Regions from separate parts of the Homo sapiens genome. Here all the other regions are linked to region 1. Evidence: fine-mapped expression QTL. A gene starts in region 1. Each other region holds a variant in brackets. All regions are shown on one strand. Distances are between the middles of the regions.

Region 1 (5,000 bases):
CTAGCAGAGGACAGTCCTGTGTCCCTGGAGGCCTCCAGCCCCTGAGAATGTCCCCCAGAGCACTGTGACTCAGACAAATGTGCCTCCCACTCCCAGGCTGTGGAGCTGGGGGAGGCTTTTAAGATGCAGGCAGTGTCTAGGTCTAGCCAGACAGCCACTTAGAATGAGCCACTCTGTGCACTGACCGGGGACATGCGTGGCTCTGGAAAAGAGCATAAGGGAGGGTGTTAAGGCAGGAGGCAAATGTGCCTGAGAGATGAGTAAGTGGAAGGTTGTGGAAGAAAGCCCCTGAGTGCCAGGAGTAGCACCTGCGTCAGCAGTGCCTGAGGATGTGTGTCTACCTGGTGGAGTGTGTAAGGGAATGTGTATGAGATGAGGTGGGCGGGAGCAGATGCTGTCTGTGTAGATGGGGGCTGTTGCTTTCCTGTGGCAGAAGATGCACATCAGTGCTGGTTCCGGAGTGGTTCCATGGGCCCTTCTTCCTCACCTTCGGCCCCTGCTCTACCCCCAGTCTGGCTGTGAGTTGCTCTTGGCCCCAGGAGGTACTTCTGCAGAAACACCTGGGCTGGGAGAGGGAGCCAAGTGGGGGGCGGGGAGGAGTGGGTAAAGAAAGGGAAACCTGAGGCTTCCCAAACCCTCCAGAACCTGCCATCCTCCTTCTACCTAGAGTGGGAACTCAGGGTCTAGGGCCCAGGCTCAGGACAGAGTGATAGCAGAACAGCCGTCCCAGAAGGAGGATCCTGCCTTTCCCATGCTCAGCCCACCCCAGCCTGTTGCTCCCCAGCATTCTGGTAACTCAGTGTCATTGCCAACCATCTTTTTGCACCCTGAATGGAGTAATAGACTCCAAACAAGTCCTCCTTCTGAGGCCACCAGGTAAGTACATAGACACCCCCACGCTAATCTTCCTTTGAGAAAAAAGGCCCACTGCTCTGAAAAGCCAAGTGGCCCCACTGAGCAGCACTCAGAAGCCTCAATGCTCCAATGCCCCTTACTTGGGCAGCTTCTGTGGTCTACTAACAGCCCCACACAGCTCCCTCCCACTGGTCTCTCAGCTCAGGACCAGCATCTCCCCTCCTAGAGCCTCAGTCAAGTTCCCCTGGCGGGCGGAGGGCCTGGGTTAACTGGGAACAGACCCAGCAGCTCCGCTCCATGGGCGCTGCCAGGGACATTACAACATTGCTATGCTGGGTCCATGCCAGCTCCCCCAGGGATGGGAGGAGAGAGGGTGCCAGACGGCCAAGATCGGTGGGTGGGGGTGTGGGGCAAGCAGGGCCAAGCACCCAGATGGAGGGAGCAGAGCGAGGGTGGAGCTGGGGCAGGAGCACGCAATAGAATTTGGTTGCACGTTGGGGGTGATGGCTGGGCAGCAGGAACCAAGCGTTCCTTCCACCTCCAAGGCTTAACTGTGGTCATGGAGCTGGGGGGGACAGTGCCTTGTGGGGAGCAGGGGACAGGTGTGTGGTCAGCCTCCTGACTCCTCCCAGCTCCAAGGGGATTGGAGTGATGCCACTGGAGTCAGAGGGGTGGCAATCCTGTTCCAAGCGTGGAGCTCCGTCTCTGCGAGGACCCTCCCAGATTAGGACTCCCAAGCCAGAGCCAGAGGAGAATGTCTGGGAACGCAACTGGGGGATCCTAACAGCAAGGGTAATGCGGTGTCAATGATGCCAGGTCAGAGTGGAGTGAGAGGGGAGTAGCCAGGTTGACCGTTTCCTCACCCTTCATGAACCCCACTCTGGCCTTGAGGAAGGATCCTCAGTACTCCCTCAGGAAGCCACCTAGGGGCTGAGGAGCCCCACTACTCTTGCAAACCTTAATTCCTCTGTCCCCAAGCATACTGTCCCCGACCCCCACAACGCCGCCTGCTAACCCCGCGGGCTCACCTTCCCGTTGGCCGCAGTCTCTGCAGGTCTGCGCCCCCCGAGGCCTCGCAGTGGACCCGGGGCTCCTGGAGCTCGCACGGTGCCACCCGCGTCTTCTCCAGTCCGGGGACCCCGTTGCACCCGGCCCGGGTCCGTTCGGCGCCGAGAGTCCCTGGGATTCCGGGGTGGACCTGACGCTGGCGGCAGGGGCTGCTCCAGAGGTGGGGCGCCGGGAGATCCTGGGGGCCCGCGTCGAGATCGCCGTCGCCAAGCTGGGTCCCGGGTCCCGCCGCCCGCTGCTGTAGAGCCGCGGCTGGAGCGAACGCAGCCCGGCCCGCCCCCTCCGCGTCCCCTCCCAAGCCGGCCCGGCCCGCCCCTTCAGCCCCTTTGGCCGCCTTCCCACTCCCTTCTTCCGGGGAGCCGAGCCCGCCCTCCCGGCCTAGGCGGTGAGTGCGCGGCGCCCGCTCCTCCGCCCCGGCGCGCGGGGGAGACGCGGGGCGCGCCCGGGGCCCCGCCTGTGCGCCGGGAAGGGGGCGGCCTCCTCCCGCGGGTCTTGGCCGGGAGGATCGCACGCGTGGGGCGCCTGCAGGAAGTGGGAAGGGAAGAGGCTGTCTGTAAAGCCCCTGCCTGGGCTCGGGCTCGGGCTCGGCTTGGGTCGGACACCCGCGGAGCGAAGCGCAACTGGCGGACCGTGGCAGTTCAGGGCAGGGCAGAGCCCTGCACACACCCCCTCGCGCCTCCCTCCTCTTCGGCTTTAACTCTAGGAACTAAAACAGTGGGGCTCCTACTCAGCTTGGAACTAAGGTGGGCGTGAGCTGAGCAAGAGAGAAGGAAGGAAAAGCAGGGGGTGGAGGGAAAGACAAACTGAGAAATCTGGGAGAGTACGGGCGGTGGTAGGGGGAGCCGAGGCAGCGGGAGAGGGGGGCGTCTCGGTATGAAAGCGTCGCCGTGCTAGCCGGGAACTCTTTTCTCTTTTCGTGTCTGGATCTTGGTCAACGTTGGGGCTTCTGAGTCGAACCTCCCTCCATCTACCCTCCCCAAGGGGCAGGGCAGTCGGGTTGAAAAGGGGAAGCGCTGCTGTACGCCTGGCTCTGACATGGCTTGGGCAAGTCGCTGCACCTCTGGGTGCCTCCTCCCTCGCCCGCGCTCCGGAGAGAACCTCCCTGCAGTGAGGAGGGGCGGTGCAAGGTGCTCTCAGCTGGCGCCTGGAGGCAGGGTTGAGGAACCGAGGGGGCGCCGCGAGGAAAAGTGTTTCCGCCCACCTCTAACCCCTTCTCTAGCCGAGGACGGGGATTTGGGGTCTATTGTTTGGGTCCTACAGAGCTGGGCTGGGGCCTTGCCACGAAGTGTTGCTACCACCTGCTGGTTTTTCTAGGGAGCACAAGCACCCGGTGCGATTCCCTTTGCCCCCTTTTCTCCCTGTATCGCCCTGTCCCATCTTGCTCTCCTGTTTATTAAAGCAAATGGGCTGATCAAAACTGGTACTTAAAGAGCATTCAGAAGCCGAAGAAAATTGTGAAAGAGATCTATGAGCCAACAAACACAATAAACAAAACAATGAAACTCAGTAAGAGTCACCTGGGAGAGACAAACAGGCTTTAATGAATTGACTGAATGAGTGATAGAAAGATAAAGGCTACCGAGCAAGTTCCCACTTGGCCAGGGGTTTGTTCACTCTTAATATCAGGAGTCAATAAATAAGTCTGATAGTATTTAATGACTGCATTTGGACGTCATTAATAATTCCACTTGTACTGACGGTTCTACTTTATCTTGTTTCTTCCCTTTGCCCTGAAACTCAGTGGTGGAGGGCTTCCTTCATTTTCTGGTTATCTCCAAGGCTTTCAAAGACTTCTGCAAAGAAACAGAATTTGCATTGTGTGTGGAATTACGTAACTCATACATTAACATGCCTGATTGCTAGACATCTATGGTTATATTGAAAACTTAAAAAAAAGACACATAACTAGATTATGTTAAAATAAAAATATGGACAAAACCAAACCGTAGTTGTTACTTTATAAAACCCAGAAATTCCTGTAGTAATTTGCAACGTATCCTGTATTGACATAACAGTAAAAATATCTGCCTTCTTTTCTATTTCATGATATACCTCATATTAGGTGACTATAATATGAAATGAAGTTTTTGCTGCTCAAGGCTTGTGTAATTAGTTATATTTGTCTTGTTAATAAAATTTGAGAGGCATCTAGTTTTCAAAGGAAGTGTCATACTCAGGATGCAAAGAGGTTTAAATTTGTGATTAGTCGGCTTTGCATCCTAATTGCCTATGTCTTATCAAACCAAGTTTTAATGGTAGGTGGAGAGCATAGAATGCATTGTTAAAGTATGCTGCAACCTGCAGCTATTAAAAAGCAAAGTAATGAATTCCTTTTTAAAGTTTAATGTAAATTTTTTGCTATAATTTGTTTGGTGCCTGGGACACTCCAGGTGCTTAGAAGTGTTATAGAATGAATCAATAAAAAATAATATTTAAACTTTTTCTATGTGGATGGGCACAGTGGCTTATGCCTGTAATCCCAGCACTTTGGGAGGCTGAGGTGAGAGGATCACTTGAGGTCAGGAGTTTGAGATCAGCCTGGCCAACATGGTGAAACCTCATCTCTACCAAACAATACAAAAATTAGCCAGGCATGGTGATGCATGCCTATAGTCCCAGACACTCAGGAGGCCAAGGTGGGAGAATCGCTTGAACCCGGGAGGCGGAGGTTGCAGTGAGCCAAGATTGTCCTACTGCACTCCAGCCTGGGCGACAGAGTGAGACCCTGTTTCTTTCTATATATATATGTGTGTATATATATATATTTTTTTTTTTTGACTTGTTCAAAAAAAAAACCCTGGAGTATTGCTAATGGGCAGGACCTAATAAAGTTTATGGCTCACAGAATTAATCATTTCTGGCACACAACAATCTATTATGTAAATTTGGAACCAAAAGGAACTGCTGAGTAGAAAACTCCAGGTGAGATAGGAAGGCTCCTAGATTGGTTCTGCCTCATTTTTTCTGAGTTTTTGCCTCCTTCTTGGGCTTTGCTCACTCCCCTAGGATGTGCAATTTTCTTCTTCCTTATTTCCCCTTAGAACAGCTAATGTAAGCTGATGTTGTCATAAACAAAG
Region 2 (8,783 bases), 130 kb after region 1:
TTCATTAGTGAATAGTACCCCTTCAGTGTCCCAAGTTAAATAAGACAGCATCCATTGGATAGAACAGGTACCAGTTTATTCTACTGAAGGCTTAAGCATAAAGGAAATCTCCCTCAACTTTCTGCCACCGATGTCTGAGTGAACTGAGCCAGTTCTGATGCCCTCAACAGAGGGCAGAAGAAATCTATGTTACATCTAGGTGCTTGTCACTGCCCTTTATAGGGAATGATGGGATGAAGAAACCCCATTGACTCTTAGTTTCTTGCTATTTCTGTTTTAATGAATTGAAATTAATTGAAGAAGATCTAGCACAGATGAGAAGACTTCCCAATTTTTCAAGCCATACAAAATTGGCTAGGTCAGTTAGGAGGATACTGGAAAATTGAGATAATTTAATTTTAGCAGCAAATTTTCAAAGTCATCAATGTTAATCTTATGATATGATGGTGACATGGGAGATAAATGATGATACAGTGTATCTACAGCTGGTTTAATAGTGATTATCAAAGAATCTTGTAAAACGCACAATTAATATGACTATGTCCACTTGTCCATCACTAACAAGATCCAGTTTCTGCTCTCAAGCCTTCATCCTTCTACTTCAAAATGGAGGTGTTAGAAGCTTGTGCTAAGACATTAAAAATGTCTTTGGTGCTATGGCTATCTTGCTGTTACAAAGGTAGAAGGTAGAATTCCCTGGCTGTGTGGATTACGTCTTTCACCTAATGGTTGGTCTTGGGACCCATTCAGCTGAAGATGGAAATATACCTATCTTGGATTCAATTATCTTATTATTTAAAAAACAATATAGAAACATGCCTTTCCACTAACTTTTCAGCTGTGAGGTTATAGGCAAGTCATTTAAATTTAGGTTTAATTACACTTCACTTATTTAAATTTATTTTTAATTAGGAGAAAATAATATCTGTATGTCAGGGCTGCTGTATTTTATATGTATAAACTACCTGTGATATCTCAGTGGACTCTAGAGAAAAAAAAATTGCCTCCTTCTCTAAATTTTCCTTGTTCCCTGCAGGAAGAGGCCAGACATCTTCCCAGCCATGTCCCATCAAAGAGCCCTGTTAATACTCCCATTCAACAAAAAATAATTTATTTTGTTATATTTTCCCAAATCACATAATTTAAAACATTGCTTAAAAGACATAGAACCAACCCAAATGCCTATCAATGATAGACTGGATGAAGAAAATGTGGCATGTATACCCCATGGAATACTATGCAGCCATAAAAAGGAATGAGATCATGTCCTTTCCAGGGACATGGATGAAGCTGGAAGCCATTATCCTCAGCAAACTAACATGGGAGCAGAAAACCAAATACCGCATGTTCTCACTCATAAATGGGAGTTTAACAGTGATAACATGTGGACACAGGGAGGGAAACAACACACACTAGGGCCTGTTGGGGGTCGGGGGCGAGGGGAGGGAGAGCATCAGGACAAACAGCTAATGCTTATAGGGCTTAAAACCTAGATGACAGGTTGATAGATGCAGCAAACCACCATGGCACATGTATACCTATGTAACAAACCTGCACATTCTGCACATCTATCCCTGAACTTAAAGTAAAACAAAATAAATAAATAGATAAACAAACATTGCTTACTTGGAGATTTAGAGTATCAATTTTTATGTTCTGTGAATTTGTTGGTCTCCTAATGTGATGTATGTTTATGTATGTTTAGTGAAATAATGGTTTACATTTTCTGAATTATTCTCTGTACCCTCATGGTAAACATCCATGATCTATTATGTGCCTTTAAAAGTCTATTATGTGGGTCAGGCGTGGTAGCTTATACCTGTAATCCCAGCACTTTGTGAGGCCAAGGTGGGCAGATCAAGAGGTCAGGCGTTCGAGACCGGCCTGACCAACATAATGAAAACTCATTTCTGCTAAAAATAACAAAAATTAGCCAGGCATGGTGGCGTGCGCCTGTAATCCCAGCTATTCGGGAGGCTGAGGCAGGAGAATCACTTGAACCTGGGAGGTGTAGGTTGCAATTAGCCAAGATTGTGCCACTGCACTCCAGCCTCAGCAACAGAGCGAGACTCCATTTCAAAAGAAGAAGAAAAAAAAAGTCTATTCTGTAAACTGTGAACTCCCCCGTGAACACTTTTTCATTTTTTTTCTAAATTCAAACCTCCTATCCCAATCTACAATCCTTTTGACCTCTTTAGATGTCTTCTGTTACTCACTTTGATGTTTGATACTCCATCTCTGCCTATTTTCATTTTCATTTTTTTATGTGTTCTTCCTCTCTCCCTGGGCTGCATTTTCTTAGCAAGGTGAGGCTGTGTTGGAGGGAGCAGGTGGTAACCATGCCAGAAGGGAAGCTGAGTCTGGCATAGCACTCTTTCTACCAGGGACTCAATTGAGGTGATGACCCCTGTGTTGGAAATGGTCCCACATAGCCCTGGGAATGGACGCAAAGTGCTGGTACCTGTTCCCATCTCTTGCAGTTGATCTTCTGAGTCTGGGCAATACTTGCTATAAGAAATAAATAATCTGTGGGAAAATGTAGGACTCTCAGAAAACCTGAAGTTTCACTGAATATGAAAATCTGTAGATACAGTGTTCTGTTATTTAACCCTTTTCCTGTTTAGTAAAAAAAGTGCAGCTCGCTGCCAGCATTCATTTAATTTGACATAAACATGCTCTTTGAGGCTGAAGCAAATTTGACTGATTATCAACATGAAAATAAAATATAAAAACTGTTCTTGGAATTATTTCTAAACAGAACTGGCCTCTAATCCTAACATCACAGAAATGTATATAATAATCACTATTAGATAATTTTTTCGTGTGGGAAAATTTCAAAGCACGGAACAACAGAAAGTGAAACATCACATTCCGCACAAAAATATTGCCGTTCTCTATAGATCTTGCCATCCTCGTCATTGTGTGAGCAGCAAAAGTGCAGTGACCAGTTGGGTTTTGTTTCTTTGATGGTGGTAATGCTGTTGGGAAAATGTCTTCCAGGTGGGCCAAGAGGTGTGACATCATCAGAGCGTGGACGACCCCAGAGACGTTGCTGCCCTGGCTCACGATGCTTTTTCAGCATCCTTTTAATCAATGTCAGTCTGAAGTTTCTATGGCAAACCGTGTGCTCAGAATTCTCCTTCTTGAACAGGATGTAGGAGTTAAGCACTGTAATGTTTAGAAGGTGGAGAAAGAATTTCTTGTATCAAACCTTGTGTGTTATCTCAGGGGAAACGCTGCAGCCGCAAGCACCGCTAGCATGTATTCTCGGCGCAAAAGGGAAAGGATTTTAATGATATTCTGGGAAGATGTGCTTTCTCTGTTCTGGATGTTGACCTCGGCCAGGAGAATTGT[G/A]ATTCCTGTCTTTCCTCAGGGAAAGAATCTTCCTCTTCCTTCTGGTAGACTCTCTCACAGAAACATTTGCAGGGTATTTCTTCCTTTTGATGGTTTCTCTTCCCTCATTTACTTGTATTCAAAATCAGCTCAAGTCCTATCTCACACAAACTTAATCTTGAATATTGTGATACACATTCATTCAATTTTTTTCTCTGACTTCTTCCACACAAAAATTTAGCACTGAATCAAAATACGTTTTCAGATGCCTGTTTTGTCTTGCCAATAATAATTGTGCAAGTGCTCTGCAGTTTGGGATTTCTAATACCCTTTACATTTATTTGTATTTCCAAAGCACTGTTAATTTTTACTGACAGAAGAGCATATGTTTTATTCTTAAAGACAGACAAATACACACTTTTTCCAGAAGATTGTGAGTTCAGTTATAACCAAATTCCTACCACCTTCTGCAGCAGAGTTTAAACCTTCTGTGATCAGAATTTTTTCCAGCAAAATATGATTGATCGGAGAACCTGGAAGAATTTGTTTTAATCAGAGTTTTTCTCTTTCTAAATTGAATGAACAAAATTCAAATTCCACAAACTTTCTCTTGAATCAGCACAGGCACAGTAAAAATCATCGAAAGAATTTAGAATATGTTAATGTCCTCTAGTGAAATGTCAACCAAGAGCAAAACACTAAGCAAAGTAGAAAATGCACAGTTAAGAGAGACGAGGATAGAAAAGGGAAGGTAAAATTGATTAACGAAATGGTAGAACAGGGTTACACTGTGAATATGCGAGAGGACTTTTCCTCCTTGTTGGGACTCGTGAATTTACAACACATCGGACTGGGGGAATTAAATCCAGAACAGTCCCTGACTTGTAAAGGGGTGAAAAATAATACCTCATTCTCTCCTTGCAAAGAAGTGTGCTTATGGAGCTAGTTTCTCCTTAGTGGCCGCTTTTTTTCTATTTAGCACGAATGTGCCATCGGAGCCAGCACCAGCCCTGAGTTAGGGCCCCTTCTCTCTTACGTCCGCTCTTTTTGTGCAGAGAGGATGCGGCTGTGCTGCGCTGTGCATAAACTGCTGGCACAGAGGTACATAGATGTCTGGTTGGTGCTGGCGGACTCCAGAATCAGGGAGAAGCGCTCCTTCTTCTCTCTAGAGACACTGTACCCCTCAGGAATATCTCCTTTTTCTTTCATTTTAACATCATATGAGAAATAGATCAGCCGTAGCCCCAGACCTGGGTCTTGTCGATACCAGAACATATTTTCATGGTCCATATCCTGGACACATTCCAGAAAAACTTTCTCTCCCGTCCTTTTGACTAGATATCTCGAGCTCTGGGTTACTTTCACATCTACGAGGCCTGTGAGAGACAGAAAGCAAGGGTGAAAAACAGGCCATCAAGGAGGAGAGGAGAAAAGAGCTTGGTATAAAAGACCTCAAAATAGTAGGACAGGGGTTGCCACCAACTCCCCAGACCCAGCAACTCCCAGGACTCACCTACAGCCAGGAAACAAAAGGCCACACGACAGAGGAGCCTGATTCCCATGGCTGCTTTGAAGAAAGAATAGGTCTTCTCCCAGGACCAGGCAGTGGGTTGATGGTCTGTGATGTCATTGTCCCGGCCCACTCTCATAATCCCTCAGCCATTGTCTAGACTAGAAAGGGTCTAGAGGTGCTAGAGAGTGAAGGACATCCCTTGTGCTCATGGAAGTGTCACTGTGTGTATGTGCACGTATAGAAAAGAGTTGACACAGCGGGCCTGAGACTGCTGGCCTTAGAAGGGACTGCTTGCATGGTTGGCTCTTGATTTGCATCTGCGAACTTGAATTTTGGGAGTGTTCCCACTATAGTAACTGGTAAGCATGGCTTAGTGTGTCTAGACTGCTTGCACAAACCACGTGGGTTAGGCTGAACACTTGCTTTACGTCAAGTCTGGAATTATGCTGCATGATAGGCAGAGGGTGCCAATGTGATCAGCTGAATTATTTTGCGAGGGCTGCCATAAGTCACCACAGACTAGGTCATTTAAGCAACAGAAATGTATTTTCTCATACATCTGGAGACTAGACATCCAAGATCGGGGTGTCAGCATGGTTGGTTTCTCGTGGAGCCTCGCTCCTTGGCTTGTAGATGGCTTCCCCCTGTGTCTGCACATTGTCTTCCCTCTATGCATGTTTGTGTCCTAATTTCTTCTTATAAGGATCCCAGTCATATTAGTGAGGACCTCATTTAACCTTAACCACCTCTGTAAAATCCTTATCTCCAAACATAGTCATATTCTTAGTACTGGAGGCTGGGATTTCAACATATGAATGTTTAATGACACGATTCAGCACCTAACACCAGCCACTGAAAGTATTGGAGGTGCTGAGTCTCTAATGAGCTTCCCTGGGCAGAAAGGTTGTTCTCACGTTGCTGCATTTTCATTGTTGGGGTGAGAGTGTGCTCTCTCATGGAAGAGAACATAAGGAAGTCTCACATGGATTTCTCCAAAGTCCACCATGTCTTTGTTCCTTGTGATCATAGTATTCTTACTACATATTTGTGATACATCTTTGCTATGAGTACAAGGACACGCCGAGTCCCATGAGTCCTTCTGGTGAGTCTCAGTCTTTGAAAGTGAAGGTAATTTTTTTCCTGACCAACTGTGATTAGGAAAACCTTACCATTTTCTCTCTCTCTCTCTCTCTCTGTCTGTCTCTCCTCACTCTCAACATATATTTTATTGAGAGCAGTCTTAGTTTCTCATACAATATACTTAATAATTACTACAAGTAGCATATTGGGTAATAGGGCAGGCTTTGGAACTATGCTGCCTGGGTTTGAATCTGGTTCAAATCCACATGTGTAGGTTCATGTGAGTGCTCACATGTGTAGGTTTACCTGATGGGGTTGGGGAGATGGTGGTATATCAATAATGGGGTGGTAGGTGTGTTCAGCCCCAGGTGCAAGCGATAAAGGGTGCAAAGCATTTTAAAACAATCATAAAACCCAAGTGAAATGGTTTTGCTTTTATTATCACCAAGTGCCAGGAATTCTAAATACTTTTGGTGATAAAAGACTCCTTCAATGAAAGATTTGTCCTTGTGTGACTGGCTCATTTCACTTAGCATTATGTCAAACACAGAGAAGCAGAGAACAGAATGATAATTGCCAGGAAAATGGGAGAAGGAAGAACTGAGCTGCCATTCAATTGGTGTAAAGTTTCAATTATACAAGATAATTACATTCTAGAAATCTGCTATGCAACATTGTACCTAGAGTTAACAATATCATATTGCACATTAGTTTTGTTTAAAGGTTAGATTTCATGCTAAGTGTTATTCCCACAATAAAAAGAAATCTCACCAAGTAATTTTGGTACACATCGAGAACCACTGATCAAAACAAAAGGGTCAGCTACAACTGTCAGTGTGATGCTTATACTGCATTTTCCGGTAACACTTTACTTGTGGTTATTTTGCTAACATTATTCATTAAAACTTTCTGATGGTCTAAACAGGTTTTGAAACTGTATCCATGCATAGTATGAATCAATCAAGTCACAATAGTTTTTAAGTTGTTTGCAATAATATAAAATAGTTATTGTAATTATTCAGACTATATTCCTTAGTTTTGACATTACTGTGAATATCTAATATCTAATCCAACAGACTTGGCCTTACCATAAATCAAGCATACTGACACAGCTACCCAACACAAACACCTTTGAACTTCAGTTTCACCAGACTATTTGCTTACAAAAAAAGCTTCACAACCATAAACATTGTTATCTTTAGTACAATTTTTTTTTTTTATTTTACAAGATGTGAAGTCTCAAAGCTTCTACTGGCAAAATCTGTAAGTGTATAGTGTAGCCTAACCTGCTTAAATGAAAAGTATAAGACTAAGATTAAAATTGCCCCGAGACACAGGTAAACAAAAAGGGAAGCATGTGGGGCCCCAGAGAGGATCCCTGAAGACCGTAATGTAGAATGCAGCCTTCCCTAGTAGGTGGTATGAGGGGGGCACTGGATTGATGCAGGTCAATTCTAATAAAGAACTCAGGCTGATGAAGCCCTATTGAAACAGCAAATGAGAAGGAAGGGAAAGAGGACATTGACAGCTCTGTCTCACAGGCGCACCGTGATCTGGGGATAGATTTTTTTTTTTTTTTTTGAGACGGAGTCTCATCCTGTCACCCAGGATGCAGTACAATGGTGCGATCTCGGCTCACTGCAACCTCCATCTCCTGGGTTCAAGCAATTCTCCTGCCTCAGCCTCCCAAGTGGCTGGGATTATAGGTGTGCACCATCATGCCTGACTAATTTTTTGTATCTTTAGTAGAGATGGGGTTTCACCATGTTGGCCAGGCTGGTCTCGAACTCCTGACCTCATGATCCACCCACCTCAGCCTCCCAAAGTGCTGGGATTACAGGCATGAGCAACTGCGCCAGGCCGGGGATGGACTTTTACAGACTAGGGCCCTCAAGAGTTCCATAAGTCTCAGTGCAAGGAGGTGGGAAAGGCTCCTAAGTGCTTCTGCGGTGGCAGTGGCTTCCTCTGGCAAGGGCAGGCTCAGGAAGGTAAGACCGTCTCTCCCCTTGTGGCAGTCTTTTCTGTTCAGAGAGGAAGTGGCTGTGCAGGGCTTCGGGTTAACGGCTGGCAGTGTCTATGAAGGGCTGGATGTCTGGAGGTTGCAAGAAATAGAACTTAAAGTATATATATATTAAAAAAAAGAAATGCTCAGTCTTATCTCAAGAGACACAGGTCTATTAGAGACTCTCTATTTGTTTGTACTCCAAGCACCAACTGAGAAATAGATTAGTTGGAGCTTCATTCCTGCCTCTTGTCTGGCTCAGCACATATTGGTCATAAAACATATTCTGGTTGTAATATAGAACTTTATATTCTGACTCTGAAACTTGATAAACTGAAATTTCAGTGACACCAGCATTCATGGACATTGTGGCTAAAAAGAGAGAACTTAGGAAATATACTGATGTGTAACCACCAGAAAAAGGCTTAATGTAGGGTCTAGCAAACCAAGTTCAAGGACGTCATACCTGCACCCATGACATGCCTATTCCAAAGAGGCAAAAAGCTATAGAACAGAGAAGTCAATGGCTGGTGAGTTCATGGTGGTGTCTCGGTGTTGGTGTTAGCTCTGTTCAGGCTGTTAGAAGAACACACAGCGGAGAAATAATCCAGTCAATGATTCAAGGCAATCGTCTTGGAGGAAGTGACTTCTAAATTGGTCTATGAAGGAGAATCTCCCCCATTCCTGGAGTCGCCCAGTCCAGACCTCTCTGTACATTTGCACCAGCAGTTTATCCACAGTGCTGCACAGCCAGCTGCAGTCTGCACAAAAAGAGCAGCTGGAAGAACAGATGAATACCAGAGAGAGAAATGGTATTCTGGGTAGAGTGACCATTGTAGATAAAGACCCAGGAGT
Region 3 (9,939 bases), 59 kb after region 1:
AGGTTAAATTATGTACGAATTCAAAAAGCCCCCTCCCAAGCAGGTTATTTATACCAAATCTAAGGTGCTCAGGAATGAAGGGGAATCTGGGATGAGGGAGACATTTTAGATCTGGGGGCTTTCTTTGGATTTACAGATGGCCTATTTTTTGCATTCACATGAGGACATCCTTTGGTTTTACAGTGCGTTCATGAGAATGTGAGGTTTTTTCTTTTTGTGGTGCATGAAGTCATCTTATCCATTCCTCTGCCTCCAGGTACCCCTGAGTTTTCTCAGCTCAGACAGTTAGTCATCTTCCCTTATTTCAAAATTAGGGACTCTTCAACCTTCTGTGTCCCTTTGCATCCAAATATTATATGTAGCTTTCTCTACTAGCAAGTTTCCCAAATAAACATCTGATATCATCAGAGTAACTTCTTGCTACTAGTTGTGTTGATACAGTTTCTGTCCTGAGCATCTCCTTTGTAGATTCTTAGGGATGACAGGTAAATTCATCCCCTTTAATCCCTGAGGACCCCTTTCATTTTGCTGAATCACTTCTTTTGGACCTGCCCTCCTACTCATCTTATCTTTTTTTTTTTTCTTTTTCTTCCCATTGATTGTTTTTCATTTCTGAGCAACTCTATTAAAATGAAGAAATATCAGTCTTAGGAGAACCTATTCCGAATCTCCTGGACAATGGAGGAAATTTACTCTGACATTTCTTTACATTTGTATGGATGTGACCTCCTTCCTAGGTCCCCATGGGGCCTCCTGCTAGAAGGGCCCCCTGCTTGGTTTAGTGCTCTGCTGTCACCATGTTGAAATCCTAAGATTTAACACGAGCCCCGGCATTTTCATTCTGAGCTGGTCCTGAAGATTTTGTAGCTGGTCCTGCTTCCCATCATGTCAGTTTCCTTTCCTCCCCACAACTCCTACCTGCTAATTACTACTATGCTTCTAAACATTTACTGGCTGGGCTGGGGCCGAAGTGGTAATATCCTAACTTCTATCTGCAGAACTTTCTTTCTTTCTGCTCTCAGCCTGCTTATTTTCACTCTCATCTCAAAAACCCTGGCTCTGGGAGTCTACCAGCCCTCCAGAATGTACTCCTTTGATTTCTTCATTTAGCAAACACTCAGTCCTCATTGTAAATATTAAAAATATTCCTTGACCATGTATGCTGTTCTGTGGAATAGTTATTGATGCAACAGGCGTGGCGAACACTAGCCGCCTCTCACTACACACCAGCATACTATCTGTACATGAGGGCAGGGTCAACTCTTCTTCTGCATTTGTGAGTCCGTGTGGTGTGGGGCTTGTCTCTGTGGGTGTAAGTGTGTGTACTAGTGAGCTTCTGGAGTAAGTGTGTGTACTAGTGAGCTTCTGGTGTAAGTGTATACTAGTGAGCTTCTGGTGTAAGTGTGTGTACTAGCAAGCTGACGGTGTGTGTGTTCTAATGAGCTTCTGGTGTGAGTGTGTACCAGTGAGCGTCTGGTGTAAGTGTGTGTACTAGTGAGCTGCTGGTGTAAGTATGTGTACTAGTGAGCTGCTGTTGGCCTGTGCTCTACTTGTGGGTTGGATTCACCTTAGGCAAAATTGTGATGTTTGTCTCACATCTTCCCAACCCACCTCTGACACAGACACAGCCTTACTCCATTTCCACACTTCAGATCCTGCCCATCCTTTGGCACTGGGCTGACCCTGCCCCCTGTCTCCCCAGTGACCTCCTAGGAGGATGGGGAAAAGAACCATTGAATTACATCAATAATCTGTACACGGTACATGTTGACTCTCTTTTCTTCCTCACAGCAATAGTAAGTGGTAGGTATTGTTCATTACATTTTATAGTTGAGGAAACTGAGGTTCACACATTAATTTGCCCAAGGTCACCACATCACAAAAGAACCAGAGGTTCGAACTCAGCCTTTATCTGGTTCTAAAGTCTGGGTCTTTTCGGTGCCCCAGCTGACTGCAGGAACCCCACATTTCCTCTGGATACGCTTCTCTGTAGCTGAGCCCCATTACACCCAGATTAATGACAGCCTAACTACAAATGGTACCGGTTAATATACCAATATTGTGAGTTCTCTTCTCTGGCCTCAGGGCAGTTGTCACCAGGTAATGTTTAGGGTCCCTTTTCAGCTCTCAGGGCCTAAATCTTCCAGAGAATTTTCCTCATCTCACAGGCAAATTGTCTGCATTTTAATGTGTGTTTGTGGCGAATGAACTCCCTGAACATCTGGGCTGTTTAACCTAGAATACTTAGTGTGCTAAGGGAGATTTCAGGATAGGGGAGGGAGCTACACGGGGGCGGGGGTGGTAAGTGTACCCCAGTGGCTGAGGTTATGTGCCCTACTCTCAGGTCAGCACCTCTTTGTTGACCAGCCCGTGGGTAAGCATGAATGCCGTGCCCTCACCCTGGACCCAGGGATCTCTGGCTTAGGAGGAATAGGAATCGGGAACAAGGAGTTTTAAGTCGGATTAGAGATCCACACTGCTAAACAGTAAACTTTCATTCTTTTCTTCACTGACTCATGTTCATCTCCCTTTTTGGCTTCTCTGTTCCACTTTTGTTTGGCAGGCTTTTTCTTCTGTGTTCTACTGCACCCTCGGCTGCAGGATTTCTGCCCCCTAACACCCACCCGCCTGCCCGCAGTGCTGACCCTTGCCCACCCGCGCTGTTCCCAGCCTGCTCAGCTCTTTTTGCCTACGAATAGCAGTTACCCCCACTCCTACCCATTCCCCAAACCAGGATTTCCCTTCGTCCTCTCCAGTCTCGCCTCTCCCAGAGTCCTAACAAATCCTCTCCTCCATCGTTCACCTTCTCTCTAAACACCCCAGAAAAAAGATTAAAAGTGGCCTCGCCCTCTGCTCAGCTTTCCGGACTCTGAGCACCTCCCCACCCCCTCCCTCTTCCCCAGTCTTTCCCCAGGAGCGGGGAGGTGACCTTGCAGAGCTGACCCCGGACACCCAGCTCCTCCAGCTCCGGTCCACCCTCCGACTCCGGGGACCGAGGGGCTGGAAGGTGGGGAGACGCCCGAATCTCACCTGTGACCGTGAGCCTGGTGCCCGGCCCGAAGTACTGCTCGTAGGAGCACGGAGGTGCACCCCCGCATGCAAACCTCTAAGGCTCCCCGAGCTCCTGCCCACCCTGGGGACCCAGCCCAGGTCTCCCAGCACAGGGCCGGACCGGGTGCCGCGAAGCAGCCGCCGCCTTCCACCTGAATCCCGCCGCCCGGGTGGTCCCGCGAAAACTCACCCAGCACGGTCAGCCTGCTGCCGGCCCCGAAAGTCAGGACGTTGGCCCCAGAGCACAGCCCGGGGACTCCCCGCAAAAACCAGACCCAAGCCGCCCGCGCCCGCGCCCCAGCAGCCCGCGCTCACCGAGCACCAGGAGCCGCGTGCCTGGCCCGAAGTACTGGGTCTCTTGGTCACGGCCCCCGAGCCCCGCACAAAAACCCGAGCGCAGTCTCGTCCCCGGTCCCCCGGCGGCCCCAGCTTACCCAGCACTGAGAGCCGGGTCCCGGCGCCGAAGTACTGAATGTTTTTGGCTCACAGCCCCGAGACGCGGCACAGAAACTGGCCCTGCGACGCCCCCGGCGTCCCGGGGCGCCCCCTCCCCAGTTCCGGGGCTTCAGCGGGAGCCCCCGCTTACCGAGCACTGTCAGCCGGGTGCCTGGGCCAAAATACTGCGTATCTGTGCTCACAGCCTGGAGGCCCAGGACAAAAACCGGTGCTGCCCGCTCTGCTGTCCCAGACTCAGCTCGGGTCCTTCCCACCGCTGAGAGCCCCATCGCTCTCCCAGCACCCAGAACCAGGAGTCCTCCGCCCAGACGCCCAGCAGCGCCTCTCAGCACAGCCCCTCTCAGAGTGGGGCAGCTGCTTACCTCTGCCCATCCCGCCCTCTCGGAGCTCTCCGGAGCCCCAACCGCCTCCTTACCCAGTACGGTCAGCCTAGAGCCTTCTCCAAAAAACAGCTCCCCGGTGTTCGCACAGCCCTGGGGACCCTGGCGCAAACCCCGCTTCCCTCGAGGAGGGCCCTGGATTGCCCAGTGTCCACTCCCCTAAGAACAGGGTTCTGGGGTCGTGCAGGCTGGGCTGCTCACCCTCTCTCCCACCTGGAGCCCCCTTCTTACCTAGCACGGTGAGCCGTGTCCCTGGCCCGAAGAACTGCTCATTGTAGGAGCACAGTGGGAAGGGGCTGCCCAGAATTCCTTCTCCTTCCCCACCTCCCTTAGCACAGACAGAGGGCACACCCTTCCTCTCTTTCCTGAGCCTATCTTTTCCTGTCTCGAGTTAGCTGGACACGGTAACCTGGATCTTGCATGAGGCCACCACCAATTTGCAGAGGAGAATCCACTTGGCTGGGGGACAACACAGTGGATTTGAAATCTGAAGGGGCATTGGTGGTACTGGAACGGCTGGAGCTGGGCGATATTGCAGGCTAGACCTTGCCGTTTCCTAGTTATATGACCTGTAACCTCTGATCTCAGTTTCCTCATTGGAAAGATGGGACAATATCTTTCCCTCAGGGTTTTCATCAGTTCTTAATAAATAATGCATGTGCAAGTACTTTGTCAAGAACAAGTTTTATTAAAAGTGCTGAGTGATAATCCCACTTTGCTGTCTTGGCCTTCTTATTCCTTGGAAGCCGAGTCTGGACAGGGAGATGGACAGGTGCTCGCTGGGTTGGGGGACCCTGCAAGACCACAGCTGGGACCAGCCCCAGAGAACTCTTCCCACCTGGTAGCTGCATTCCCTGAGCTGGGTGGGGATGCTTACTGCATCAGGGTTTTTTGTAAAAGCACCTCCTCTACCTGAATCATCGTGCCCTCCCGCTAGTCCCCACAATGTTACACCATGATACAAAAATGTTTCCTCCCTGCTAGTCCCCCTCCCCCAACCACTGGGCAGCGGCAGGAAGCGCAGGTGGCAGAGGTTAGTCTGACTGTGTGGGGCTTGGAAAAGACAAAGGCAGTGAATTAAAATGGGAAGGGCTTGGGGAAAGTCACAGTGATGGTAATGGTGGGGGGCAGAGAGGTCCCTCCTTGGAACATGCATCACCCTGAGCAGACCATCTATGTCACTGGGTCTCCCTGGTGGGGCTCACTGTGCCCACCTGCTCAGACTGGCATTTATAGTGAAGTGGGTGGGAGGAGCGAGGGGTGGCAGGCAGCTCATAGGAAAATCCACAGAGCAGTTGATGGCACCTTATGACAGGAGGACAAACAATCCAGAAACCTCTATAATTTCCCTTTGTTCAGTTGCTTCCTGAACGATGTCTGAACTCCATATTCTTCATTTACTCCACAGGTGTTTAGTGAACATCCACCATGTGCAGGCTCCATGCTGGTTGCATGGAGGTAAGTTTATTCCCAGAGTGGCATGCACCAACCTGCCTTTCCAGCGCTAATTTTGAGCACTCCCATTTCTGAACCTTGCAACCAGCTAAACGGGCCTACCCAGAGGTACCTAGCCATGTCATTAGGGCTTTTGTTCATGCCTCTGACCAGCATGGCCATTCTCTAGAGTGAACAACTGAGACCAATTCTTCCTTTGAAGAGATTGCCACCTTCTCAGACTCTTTACTGATTATCCCAGTGAGAAATTGAGGGCCACTCTCTGACTGCATTTTAGTAAGCAGTTCATGTTGCTCTTTCAAAGCATGGACTTGCGTTTGGCTCTTTCTGTTCATGATTGAGTTGCTCTGTGAACAGATA[C/T]GCTTCTTGGGGACTGTAATTTGGGTATCTTAATTTTCTTGGAAGTTGATAACAACACATCACAGGGATATGTGTTTAATGAGTGGATGTGTGTACATGTGTGTAAATATAAACATATACACGCGTGTGCATACATGCACACACGCATCTTTGAATGCATGTATGTGTTGCAATAAAGAGGGAAGACTGTGTGGTGTAGTCCTATAAATGGAAGGGTAATGGCTATTTCAGGCAGGACTTACGGTGATGATTGCTCCTGGATTGGGTCAGTTTGGGTTCACTCATTTATTCATTTATTTATTCATACATACCTATGTGGTGTCTACACTAAACTGAGGTTACTATACTATAGCCCTGGGATACTATCTTAAAATGTATCCTTGTTAACAAGGAGTTCATAGTCCCTGGGGGTGTCAGACAAATAAAGAGGTAGTTTCCAGCAAGTGTGATGTATCACAAAGAAGGTTATGCACAAGGCACTGTGATAGCAAAATAAAGGTGTATTTAATCCAGCCTCAAGGGAGGAAGAGGTAAGGAAGAGGCAAGAAAGGGCCAGAGAAAGCTTTTTGGAGGGGAAGACATTGGAGCTAAATCTTTAAGTCTAAGCAGGAGTTATCATGGGGAGAAGAGTACTTTGTCACCCCAGGAGGAAGAGCATGTGCAAAGCGGCCTGAAAGAAGCAGCTCAGGGGCTTCAGGGATGAGAGAAGTGAGGAGAGTGTGGAAGGAGACAAGGATAATCATCCGGTCTTCTGTGCCACCTTTGGGATTTGGGACTCCATCACCATGGTGACAGTGAGACAACAGAAGGAGCTTTTGAAGGAATTCTAGAAGTAGGAATGGGGCTGATTCTCAGTTTTAGATACCTTTATTTTCTAACCTTCCAGGAATGATTAGGGGACATTTTCATTCTGGTTTAATTCACTAGAGAGAGATTTATAAACAGATGGGTAACTTAAACCGGAAGACACATCTTCCATTGAAAATAAGTTTGCAAGTCAGAGCCTCTCTTCTTTGGAGCTGGGAAATCAACTTGGTGAACCAATGAAGATGAATGGAGTGCTCAATAAGAAAGCTGCAAGGAAGGTGGGTGATGCTTATGGAATCCAGCTTTGTTAGTCACGGGGACATGGCCAGCTGGAGGGTGAACACACCTGTATAGGTTGGCTCTTCCTCTGAGCACGTCTTTCCTGGGCAGAACAGTATAGTTGGATATAGAAAATTCCTATACTCAACATCTGTGTCTTCCTAGACTGTTCTAGAAGTAACCTCTTCAGCTCCCATCACTGCCTTTCACGCTGAATTAACCTCTGCTATTGATCTCAAGGTGGGCCCCTCATCCCTCTTACGTGAAGAGTCTGCATTTTCCTTGAATACCTCTTGTTTCTATCCTGACTGAATGGGGAGAGTCACAGGGAGTTCAGAGACAGCCAAGGAGCTATCCAGACATTCACAAGTCAGAGTCAGGCCAGACCAGAACATTTTTATTGGTTTAGTCACTTAGGCATGCTAAGGTCCCCCTGGGTTAGGGAGATTTCAGCCGTGAGTGTGCAGGTGTGCATGCACATAGGGGGATATCTATTGGGATGCAGAGAGGTGAGAGCAGCTCTTCAGAAGCGCTGGCAAAAGAAGAATGTGTATTGAAACCATGACGGGTTAGAAGCTCCTAACTCCACTTCCAGGGCTGCCTTCAGAAATCCTTTCTCTTGACCTGCAGAAGAGAAAGTTTTGGGGGTTATTAAGAGCCAGGAGTTGTGAGGATTGAGAGAAAGTAGTAGGGCCCATTGACCACACAAATAGTAAGGCTCATCACAACATCCATTGGGTTTTCTGGTGACTCCAGCTTCTCCTTCCCAGCATGACCCTTCCACTGTGATCCTACAGAGGTGCAAGTTATCTTCTGAGGCACCTGAATGAAATCTCTTCCCTCCCTACTGCCCAGCTCCAATCCTGGCAGGGACTCTATACTTCTGGGTGCTTGGTGTCAGTGTGTCACCTCCAGCCTGCTGGCCCCATCCTGCCCTCCTGCTTACCATGGCCATCAACACAAGGGCGCTGACCAGCACAGCATACAGGGTGGCCTTCCCTAGCAGGATCTCATAGAGGATGGTGGCAGACAGGACCCCTTGCTGGTAGGACACTGTTGGCACGGAGGAAGGACAGGTGGGTACCTGTGCACAGGTAGCTCTGGTCTCTCCCACCCTCCACCCTCCAGTGTCTGTGAGTTCTTCATGCCTTGGTTCTAGGTCAAGAACCATGAGAGAGGGAGAGGAAAAGGAAGGGCTTACTTACCCGAGGTAAAGCCACAGTCTGAAAGAAAGCAGGGAGAGGAAAATAAATGAGAGACCTTATTTTCATAGGCAATTAAAAGTAAAGTCAGATTTGCAGTTGGCACAGACTCCCAGGCCCAGACCAGCTTCCTCTGACAGCCCAGCACCTCCTTTCTTCTGCCATGCAGATGTCAGCCACATTGTCCTTGCAATCCATGGCATGTGGCAGCACTGAGGGGGCTGGGGGGCACCACCCAGATGAGAGTTACACAGGCCACATAGAAAGGGGACCCAGCTGCTTGGCTCTGTTGGGCTGAGAATCTGGGAGAAGAATGAACCACAGGTGCCCAATTCTCCTTCATGGTGTGCGCTGGTTCCTTTCTTTTTGGATCTAGTCTTGTCTGCTACCTGGATCTTTCCATTTTCCCTGGTAGCTGGTCTCACCTAATCTCCTCCAGGCATCTCCCCAGGCCCCACTCACCTGCTCTACCCCAGGCCTCGGCGCTGACGATCTGGGTGACGGGTTTGGCCCTATCCTGGGTCCACTCGTCATTCTCCGAGAGCCCGTAGAACTGGACTTGACAGCGGAAGTGGTTGCGGGGGTTCTGCCAGAAGGTGGCCGAGACCCTCAGGCGGCTGCTCAGGCAGTATCTGGAGTCATTGAGGGCGGGCTGCTCCTTGAGGGGCTGCGGGTCCGTGCTGACCCCACTGTGCACCTCCTTCCCATTCACCCACCAGCTCAGCTCCACGTGGTCAGGGAAGAAGCCTGTGGCCAGGCACACCAGTGTGGCCTTTTGGGTGTGGGAGATCTCTGCTTCTGATGGCTCAAACACAGCGACCTCGGGTGGGAACACCTTGTTCAGGTCCTCTGGAAAGGGAAGAGGGGTTGGAGCCAGGGTTGCTCTGAGAGCTGTCTGGTTCTGGTAGGGGCTCTGTGTGTGTGAGAGAGAGCCCTGGGAATGGGCCGTAATGAAGCACAACTATGTCATTCTAGGCCCTCATTGTTTTGGGGTCACCATCCCAGTGTCTGTTGCTCTCTCTCCACTTTGCCCCTCCTTTCTATGCTGTCCCATGGATGCACATTGCCTACTGTCTCCCCAGCTTCCTATGGTCACATTATATCCTGATTGTCTTGGCTGTTTTTACTGAGGCTTGTCTGATCATCTATCCAAATAATTTATCTGTGTATCTTTATTTTTCAAAGCCTTGCTTGGTGCATGGCTATGTAATCCTGAAACTCGAGGTAGGAAACTCTCATTAGTGGTATAATTACAATAACTAAATTGACTTTTTCTAATTATAATTTTCCTTTTTTAAATCAAGATGTATATATTTGTCTCGTGGGGTAGTGACACATATTAGAATTAGCTTTTCTTTTCTAGAAAAGACACTTTTCCATTACATCTGAGTCCCCCACCTGCCCAGCACCTTTTTAAAAAATTTTATTTTCTTGCATGTAACCCTCTTTAAAGAGCCAAACCTGGTCAATATCTGATGGGATGGTCCACATTTCCTCCTCCCCTGGGGCAGGAGGGTGTGGTAGCTTGTCCAGGATGGCTGAAATCCCATGGAAGTTGATGGTCATGGGATTAACCCTTTCTTCTCTCAGAGTGTCCAGCAACCCTGCCTGGCCAGGATTGGAATCCGTCCACAGTTAAGCTTTGCATTCTCAAAAGTAGTACAAGCTAGACCACTGAGTATGAATGAACCACAAAGTCCAAGGGCCATTTCAGTAGAAAGCTCACACTGCAGAGCTCTGGACCTTTTCACATGCTTGAGAGAGGAGAGAAAGAATTTCTGGGATTATTGGAAAGAATGATTTCATCTGAAGACACATGAGGAGTGGAAGAAACCACAATTTACTGTGCCCTTTGCTTGGCTCTGTTCCAACCATGAGAGTGAGCTTTTGGTGCAGAAATGTGGCAAGTCTAGATATGGGTTCTTTATCCAAATTTGGGAAATGTTTTT

What was found. PIP is the estimated chance that this variant, and not a neighbour inherited with it, causes the effect.
Region 2: its variant is the best candidate, but not a certain one, in a credible set for the expression of EPHB6 in whole blood (Lepik 2017, PIP 0.84).
Region 3: its variant is the best candidate, but not a certain one, in a credible set for the expression of EPHB6 in whole blood (TOPMed, PIP 0.88).

Annotation. Positions count from the first base shown.
Region 1 is chr7:142,852,269-142,857,268 of GRCh38, reverse strand. EPHB6 (EPH receptor B6) reads right to left here and starts at 2,193. Exons shown (of 20, transcript NM_004445.6): 1 at 1,884-2,193.
Region 2 is chr7:142,716,792-142,725,574 of GRCh38, reverse strand. It overlaps TRB, TRBV28 and the pseudogene PGBD4P1. Among named protein-coding and RNA genes, the nearest start is that of PRSS1, 28 kb to the left of the region's middle. The variant G/A (reference allele first, on the strand shown) is at 3,355.
Region 3 is chr7:142,790,594-142,800,532 of GRCh38, reverse strand. LOC124901762 (a long non-coding RNA gene) reads left to right here and starts at 3,842. Exons shown (of 2, transcript XR_007060565.1): 1 at 3,842-3,925; 2 at 4,283-4,551. It also overlaps TRB, TRBC1, TRBD2, TRBJ2-1, TRBJ2-2 and the pseudogene TRBJ2-2P, and 5 more genes. The variant C/T (reference allele first, on the strand shown) is at 5,703.